Homo sapiens: one gene and its partner. The protein of the gene in region 1 interacts with the protein of each later gene in a biochemical or structural test. Each region holds a gene or a part of one and is shown on either strand. Other genes may lie near its edges.

Region 1 (3,500 bases):
CAGTGATCTTTCAACAAATGGTAAAGCTTCTCTGAGCTCCTTTACCAAAAGCGCATCCTGTCAGTTAAGCTGAAGTTCAGAGATGAAGCACCAACAGCCCCATCCTCGAGAGCCGGATCCTGGGAGCTTTAAATCTCATTTTCCAAAGCTAGGCAGCAGTGAGAGGTCTGGGTGCCAAGCCCCCTCTAGCTCTTGTGATCCTCCCTCATACATGGACTCAACCCCCAAATCCTCCCCACCGTCCTCAGCCCCATACCTCCTGGCTCATGCGGAAGGGGGTTGGAGGCCCAAGCCTTCATAGCCCTGACTTGAACTCAACCTCTTACTCCTCCCTTTTATCTAATCCTGCAGGTTGAAAGTAACGGAAGCCTACAGAAACTGATCCGCATCCGAAATCCCTGGGGAGAAGTGGAGTGGACAGGGCGGTGGAATGACAAGTGAGGAGGGCGCAGGCCTCGGGGCCCCAGGCGGGGGTGCATTGTGCTGGGAGGCTCTGGGAAGAGGGCGAGAGAAGAAGACATGTGCATTATTCTGAGAAATATAGCCAGGAGAGCCCAGGCCACGTGGACAGGGACCCGTGGACAGGGGCCCCTCAAAGGGTCTTTTAACCAGGACACTCCTCCAGCAGCCTGAGTGCCTTCTTCCAGGCCCCAAGCTGCTCGTGTGAAGTTCATTCCTGCCACTGCCTCCAGGTTCACCCCTTCCCTAGCTCAAATCCACCCTTCTATGGGGCTTTCAGGGAAAAAAATACACCCCACCTTCCCCCAGGCACTTCTATTACAGGGATGTGAACTTTGTACCAAAGGCCAGAGAAACATCCCTCTGTTGATTTCCAGGGCTTACTGGTAGGCATGTTGAACCCTCAACTATTTGGGGTAAACACTTGTTTGTACATCTGCTGTGGCAACCTCAGCCTACTTGCTCTGCCTCAGGTTGGAGAGGTGGGCAGTACAGAGGCCTGTGTGTAATTCCAGCCAAAGCTCAGGCAGTGGTTAGTTTACCCTGTGCACTGCCCCTGTGTACAGGGCCAGGTCCTTCTGCTCCGTGGACAGAGAGACACCTGCTGAGGCTTCCCAGGCCTCAGCCGGAGGCTCCTCATCAGATCTTCAGTTGTCTCTAAAAGAGCTGCCAGGCCCATCTCAATTGGGCAACTGCTCTGAGCTACTCCATCTCCCTCTAATGAACTATGTTCATTTTCTGGACTCTTCCTTGCCACTGTCTTCCAGCACAACTCACCCGCTCACTTTGCTCCCTGGTTTGCATCTGTATAGTGTTCTATACTCTTTAAAGTGCTGTAAGAGTATTAAAATGCAGCTGTTAGCCAGATGTGGGCTACTTTCCCCCTTTCTGGAGCCTGAGCCCTCAGAGGTGAGAGCAGATGTCCCTCTTCCTCAACTCTGGGGCCTTTGGGGAGAAATCATCGTACACTAACGCCTCTCTCTTTACTTTGTTTTCCAGCTGCCCAAGCTGGAACACTATAGACCCAGAGGAGAGGGAAAGGCTGACCAGACGGCATGAAGATGGAGAATTCTGGTAAGATTAGTGGAGGCTTCAGGGAAAGCTCTGTCTGCCCCAATGTTCTTTACTAGAAAACTGCTAATTAGAAAGAGTGTCGGCCAAAGTGAGTTTACCATGTCGAGGACACAAGCGTGTGGGATCCTGGTTTTGTTATTTTAAGTTCACTATAAGAGCCTGAATAAAGAAATTCTTAAGCCCCTTCAACGGTCCATCTTGACAATGGGGTTTATAAGCTGAGCAGCTTCAGAAAAAGGCTAAGAGGAATTCCTTTGGTAATGTTCAGATCCCAGGAAACAAGGGAAAGATGGGGCCTTTCTCCCCCAGGTTCCGGAGACTCATCCCAGCCCCTTAAGAAACTGGTCCCTTAGTGAGCAGCAATGGACCCACATGTCTGTGTGTCTGCGCCACTCTATAACCACCTGCACCTGGACACAACATGCTCTTTATCAAATGGGGCCCATATATTGTCACATTTGATGGGCACGGCTCCCATTTTTGCAGGTGAGAGTTCTGAGCTTCAGAGAAGTTTAAGTAACCTGCTCAAAGTCACCCAGCTAGAAAGTTGCAGCGCCAGGACTGGAATCTGGGCCTTCTGATTCTGAACCTGGTGCCCATCCACTCAGTTCTAATGAGCTGCTCTGCCTGGCTTTGGGTGGCTCCTGGTCTGGTGTTGGTGGAAAGTCAAGGCTTACCAGTGTGTCTTCTTATCACCTGTGATGATTGTCTCTGCTTTTGCCAGGATGTCTTTCAGTGACTTCCTGAGGCACTATTCCCGCCTGGAGATCTGTAACCTGACCCCAGACACTCTCACCAGCGATACCTACAAGAAGTGGAAACTCACCAAAATGGATGGGAACTGGAGGCGGGGCTCCACCGCGGGAGGTTGCAGGAACTACCCGAGTAAGGGCTGTTGCATATAAGGGCTGTTGCAATGCGGGGCCACCAAAGGCCAAAGCTCCCCTTACCCCACCCTGTGTACCACACCCCAGCCTAGCAGCCCCAGGAGGCAGCTCCTGCTCACTGGAACCCTCTCTGTCTTCTTTCTCCCTGAGCCTTTTCTTTTCCCTGAGCCTTTTCTCCCCGAGCTCTCTTTCTCAATCCCTTACCTCCTGCCCTACCCAGGACAAACCCAAGAGCCACTGTTTCTGTGATGTCCTCTCCAGGCCCTAGATTCCCCAGCGCCCATCATGACCTTCAGCCTGACCTTCCGCCATGCTCACGGAAGCAGTGCTCAATCCCACTTCACGGCCATGAGCTGCTCTATGCACCCCACACCCAGGCAGCCGAGCCTACAAGGGAACCTTGTCCCGGCACCCAGGGAGCCCTCCACATATCAGGCCCTGTTTGTTGCCCCATACTCACTTCAATCAGCAAATGTTGACTGGGCGCTGCCCAGATGGGGTGAAGATTTCTCCTCTGGTCCAGCCTTTGTTGAGCCCCTTGATTCTTCTGCCTTCATGGCTTAGTCCGTCAGCAGTTGTCTGAACATGATGACATCTGCCAATTATGGGGCACACCTTCAGTGCTTGGAACTATCCTAAGTGTTTTGTACACAGGGTGAGGATCCATAATCTGAAAATGTGAAATCTGAAATGCTCCAAAATCCAAAACTTTTTCAGCCCCAACATGATACCACAGGTGGAAAATTCGACACTTGACCTCAGGTGACAGGTCGCAGTCAAAACACAGTCAAAACTTTGTTTCATGCACAAAATTATTTTAAATATGCTATAGAATTACCTTCAGCCTATGTGTATAAATTATATATGAAACAGAAATGAGTTTTGTCATTAGACTTGAGTTCCATCCCTAAGATATGTTATGTATATACAAATATTCCAAAATCCAAAAAAATCCAAAATAGGAAACACTTCTGGCCCCAGGAATTTCAGATAAGGGATATTCAGCCTGCATAACATTCTATCTAACCTTCCCAACAAACTTCTGAGGCAGGCACTTTCTTATCACCTCCATCTCTAAGA
Region 2 (3,500 bases), about 69 Mb from region 1:
ACCTCCCATACCTGGAACAGTGTTAACTGATCATGGCACCTGGCATGTTCTTTAAATCCTTTTCCACACAGTGCTCCAGGCAGACCACACCAATCAATCACAGGTGATACCATGTATGTTTCATGTACCATGTGGAACAGGTATGCCAGCCCTGGCCCAAACCTTAGCACAAGGGATGTGAACCAAGAACTGGGAAGACGCCCTGACTATAGTGGGAGAGGGGAGGGTCAGGATGTGTGGGTAAATAGGAAACATTCCTTTTGGGGGAGGATGCTAGGACAGACGCCTGGCCTAGGTGGGTTACCCTAGCCCAGCCCCTCCTGCCTGTGCCTCCCAAAGTGTGAGGATTACAGGTGTGAGCCACCACACCCAGCCTATTTTTATTTTTATTTATTTTATTTTATTTTATTTTATTTTATTTATTTTTATTTTTTGAGGCAGAGTCTACCTCTGTAACCCAGGCTGGAGTGCAGTGGCACAATCTTGGCTCACTGCAACCTCCGCCTCCCAGGTTCAAGCGATTCTCCTGCCTCAGCTTCCCAGGTAGCTGGGAAGTAGCTGGGACTACAGGCGTGCACCACCACACCGAGCTAATTTTTGTATTTTTAATAGAGACGGGGTTTCACCATGTTGCCCAGGCTGGTCTCAAACTTCTGACCTCAGGTGATCCACCCACCTTGGCCTCTCAAAGTGCTGGGACTACAGGCGTGAGCCACTGCACCCTGCCGCCTATTTTTATTTCCTTTAGAGACAGGGTCTCCCTCTGTTGCCCAGGCTAGAGTGAAGTGGGATGACCATGGCTCACTGCAGTCTTGAATTCCTGGGCTCAAGCAATCCTCCTACCTCAGCCTCCCAAAGTGCTGGGATTATAGGCACGAGCCACCATGCCTGGCCCAGGTCTGCATCATCTTTGCCTGACCACTGCAGTTGCCTCCTAAATGGCCCCCAGGCCCTCCATCCTGTCACTCAACAGGGACCAATTCCTACACTCCTCTGCCACAAGCCTGGAACAGAGCTCCTTAGCACAAGACAGGTGGTCCCCACTCCTTTGCTGATGCTGCAGCCTTGGCCTAAAACATTCTCTTTTCCCTGCCCTACGTACCAAAAGCCTACTCTGTGCTCAGGGCTCCACTCAAATGTCACCTCTCACTGTCCCAGCCTCTCCCTTGCCCTCAACCAGTCCCCTGACTGAATGGCCTCTCCTTCCTTTGGGAGTACCTTAATTACAGTTCTGTACCACTCTTAGGTCTGATATGCACCTTGGCTCAGTCTGATCTGCCGCTTACATAGGCGGTAACCAACCATCTTCCCTCTGCCCAGGCCCAGGGCCAGCACAAGGAAGGGACTCCAGAAATGAGGGTTGAATTCTGGAAGCAAGAAAAGAGGAGGTCCCCATGGCAGAGAGGAAAGAGTCAACCAGATGTGGGCCCTGCCCCTTACCAGCAGTGTGACCTTGGTCAAGTCATTCAACCTTTCTGGGCCTCAACGTCCCAGGGGTAGTGGTGAGAAAGGAGAGCACCAAGCTGCTCAGCCCTAGGGCCTGGACCACAGCATGTGCTCAGTAGTGATGGCTGATCCCTCTCCCATACCTTCTAGAAGGAGAGTGACAGGAGAGGCAAGGAAGACTCTCACCTGCTTTGGGGGTTGAAGGCAGGCTCTGTGGAGGGCTCTGGCCTTCCAGGTCCTGTGTGTCTGGTCCCAGGCCTGTCACCACGGTGGTCTCCTGCAGGTCTCCCTGGACTACTGTGTCTCCTGGGCCAGGAGGCTCCACACCACAAACATCACCTTCCAGGGTGCCCTAATGCAGATGCAGCAGTGAGCAGCTGCTAGCCCTCCCCGCCTCCCTTCCTTCCCACAGCAAATCTCCTCACCTTGACCTCAGTCTCCTCTGTTAGAATGCTGCCAGACTGAGGGCTTTCAGTCTGGAAGAGCGTCCCTGCGGTAGGAGAAAAGGCGCAGAAAAACCCACTGCCCCAGCTGAATTTCCTTTGCAGCCCTCTGTCCATCCCACGGGCCCCTACCAGGTTGGAAGAGGCAGGAAAAAGCCAGGATGGAATGAGAAAAGGAGTTTGTCAACTGAGATTAATGGAGGAACTAAAACGAACCAGCCTCCCTTTCTCTGAGGAAACTGAGAAACCCCAAAATATGGAGAATAGCTTTGTCCGGTAAGCTATGTCCTAAGCAGGGCCCAGTACCTTCTCCATCCATGGTCCCAGCTAATTCTTTCCCATCTGTCTTGGAGGGGCTGTGAGGGGCCTGCAGGGCTCTCTCAGATTCTGGGTCCATCCTGGATGCCGGGCCCAGTGTCTCCACTGGCAGGCTCTGGGAGGAGAAGTGCAAGGAGAAGGGCTGCACCCAAGAATGGGGCCCCAGCCCACATCCCAGAAACACACACATTCAGTCATGAGCTGGCCCAAAAAGGGGCTCGGGGCAGCACCAAGTGCTCGGCATTCCCCAGCCTCACTCACTGCGAGGAGGAACTTTCAGGGGCCAGGTTTCCGCTACACAGCGCCGCACCACCAGACCAAGGCACTGGTTGCAGTACAAACCTGGTGCCCCGCCTCCAGAAGGTGAGCTAGAGCCTACGTTTCCCTCCCATCAAGATCAGCAGCACTTCCTTCCCCACAGATGAACAACCCAGATATTATAATATTAAGGGTGGGAAGAAGGCAAGAGAACAAAGTCCCCTGGGTGCCCACGGGTCACAGTTATGCCTCCCAGGGTGTCCCTGCAGCTGCCCTCTCAACTGGACAACTACTTACATCTCTCAAGCCTTTCTGGCCTTTCCCGCTGGCCCCTGACACTCCCCCGACACCCGTCTCCCAGCAGCTGCTCACAGAAGCCCAACCCACCCCAACCACAGACAGCCTGTCTCCAGGGCACTCTCAGCCTGGACATCCAGCCCTGGCCACACAGCCTCGGCCTCCTCCCTCTGCCTACTCCCCTTCCATAGGGCCCTGGCCTGCCACCCGCCCCGTGGCTCCAACTATCCCTCTGAGAGTAATGCTTCACCTTAGTTATGTCTTTGCTATTTTCAAAACATTTTTATTCTCATGGTCCCCCCTACAAGGCAAAAATCATGACGCCCGTTTTACAGGAGAGGACAGAGAGGTGAAATGGCATGCCCAAGGTCCCCCAGCTGTCAACAAAGACACCTCAACAGGAGGCCAGGGCTCTGAGAGCCTGGTGCCCGTCTGCTCATACCTGCCTTCCCTCTGCCAGTGAGCCCCAGTCCATTATCTTGCTCCAGCGTCATCCCCAAGGTCAACTCCTTACTCCCAGCTGGGTTCCTCAAGGGCACCTCAAACTCAACATGTTGAAACTGAGCTTCTCTCCTCCTCCCCTCCTGGTGGCTCTAATATACAAAGTCGCTACGTCTTGGAACTCTCAGAGATGCCTTTGACAAATTTTTGCCATCCCTTCTCTAGCCACTCAGTTCCCCATCCTGCCAACCCCCTTCTCCCTCCTCAGTGGGCTTCTGCCCCACCAGCTGCTACCTG

What was found. The genes of interacting proteins can lie anywhere in the genome.
Region 2: of the proteins of CAPN2 (region 1) and PBXIP1, one has a biochemical effect on the other in vitro, tested with the Homo sapiens proteins (one study listed by BioGRID).

Annotation. Positions count from the first base shown.
Region 1 is NC_000001.11:223,750,539-223,754,038, forward strand, and holds part of CAPN2 (calpain-2 catalytic subunit), read left to right. Parts: intron 1-351; coding exon 352-437; intron 438-1,458; coding exon 1,459-1,533; intron 1,534-2,257; coding exon 2,258-2,418; intron 2,419-3,500. UniProt on the Homo sapiens protein: Calcium-regulated non-lysosomal thiol-protease which catalyzes limited proteolysis of substrates involved in cytoskeletal remodeling and signal transduction. Proteolytically cleaves MYOC at 'Arg-226'.
Region 2 is NC_000001.11:154,949,600-154,953,099, forward strand, and holds part of PBXIP1 (pre-B-cell leukemia transcription factor-interacting protein 1), read right to left. Parts: intron 2,323-3,500; coding exon 2,196-2,322; intron 1,937-2,195; coding exon 1,872-1,936; intron 1,799-1,871; coding exon 1,633-1,798; intron 1-1,632. UniProt on the Homo sapiens protein: Regulator of pre-B-cell leukemia transcription factors (BPXs) function. Inhibits the binding of PBX1-HOX complex to DNA and blocks the transcriptional activity of E2A-PBX1.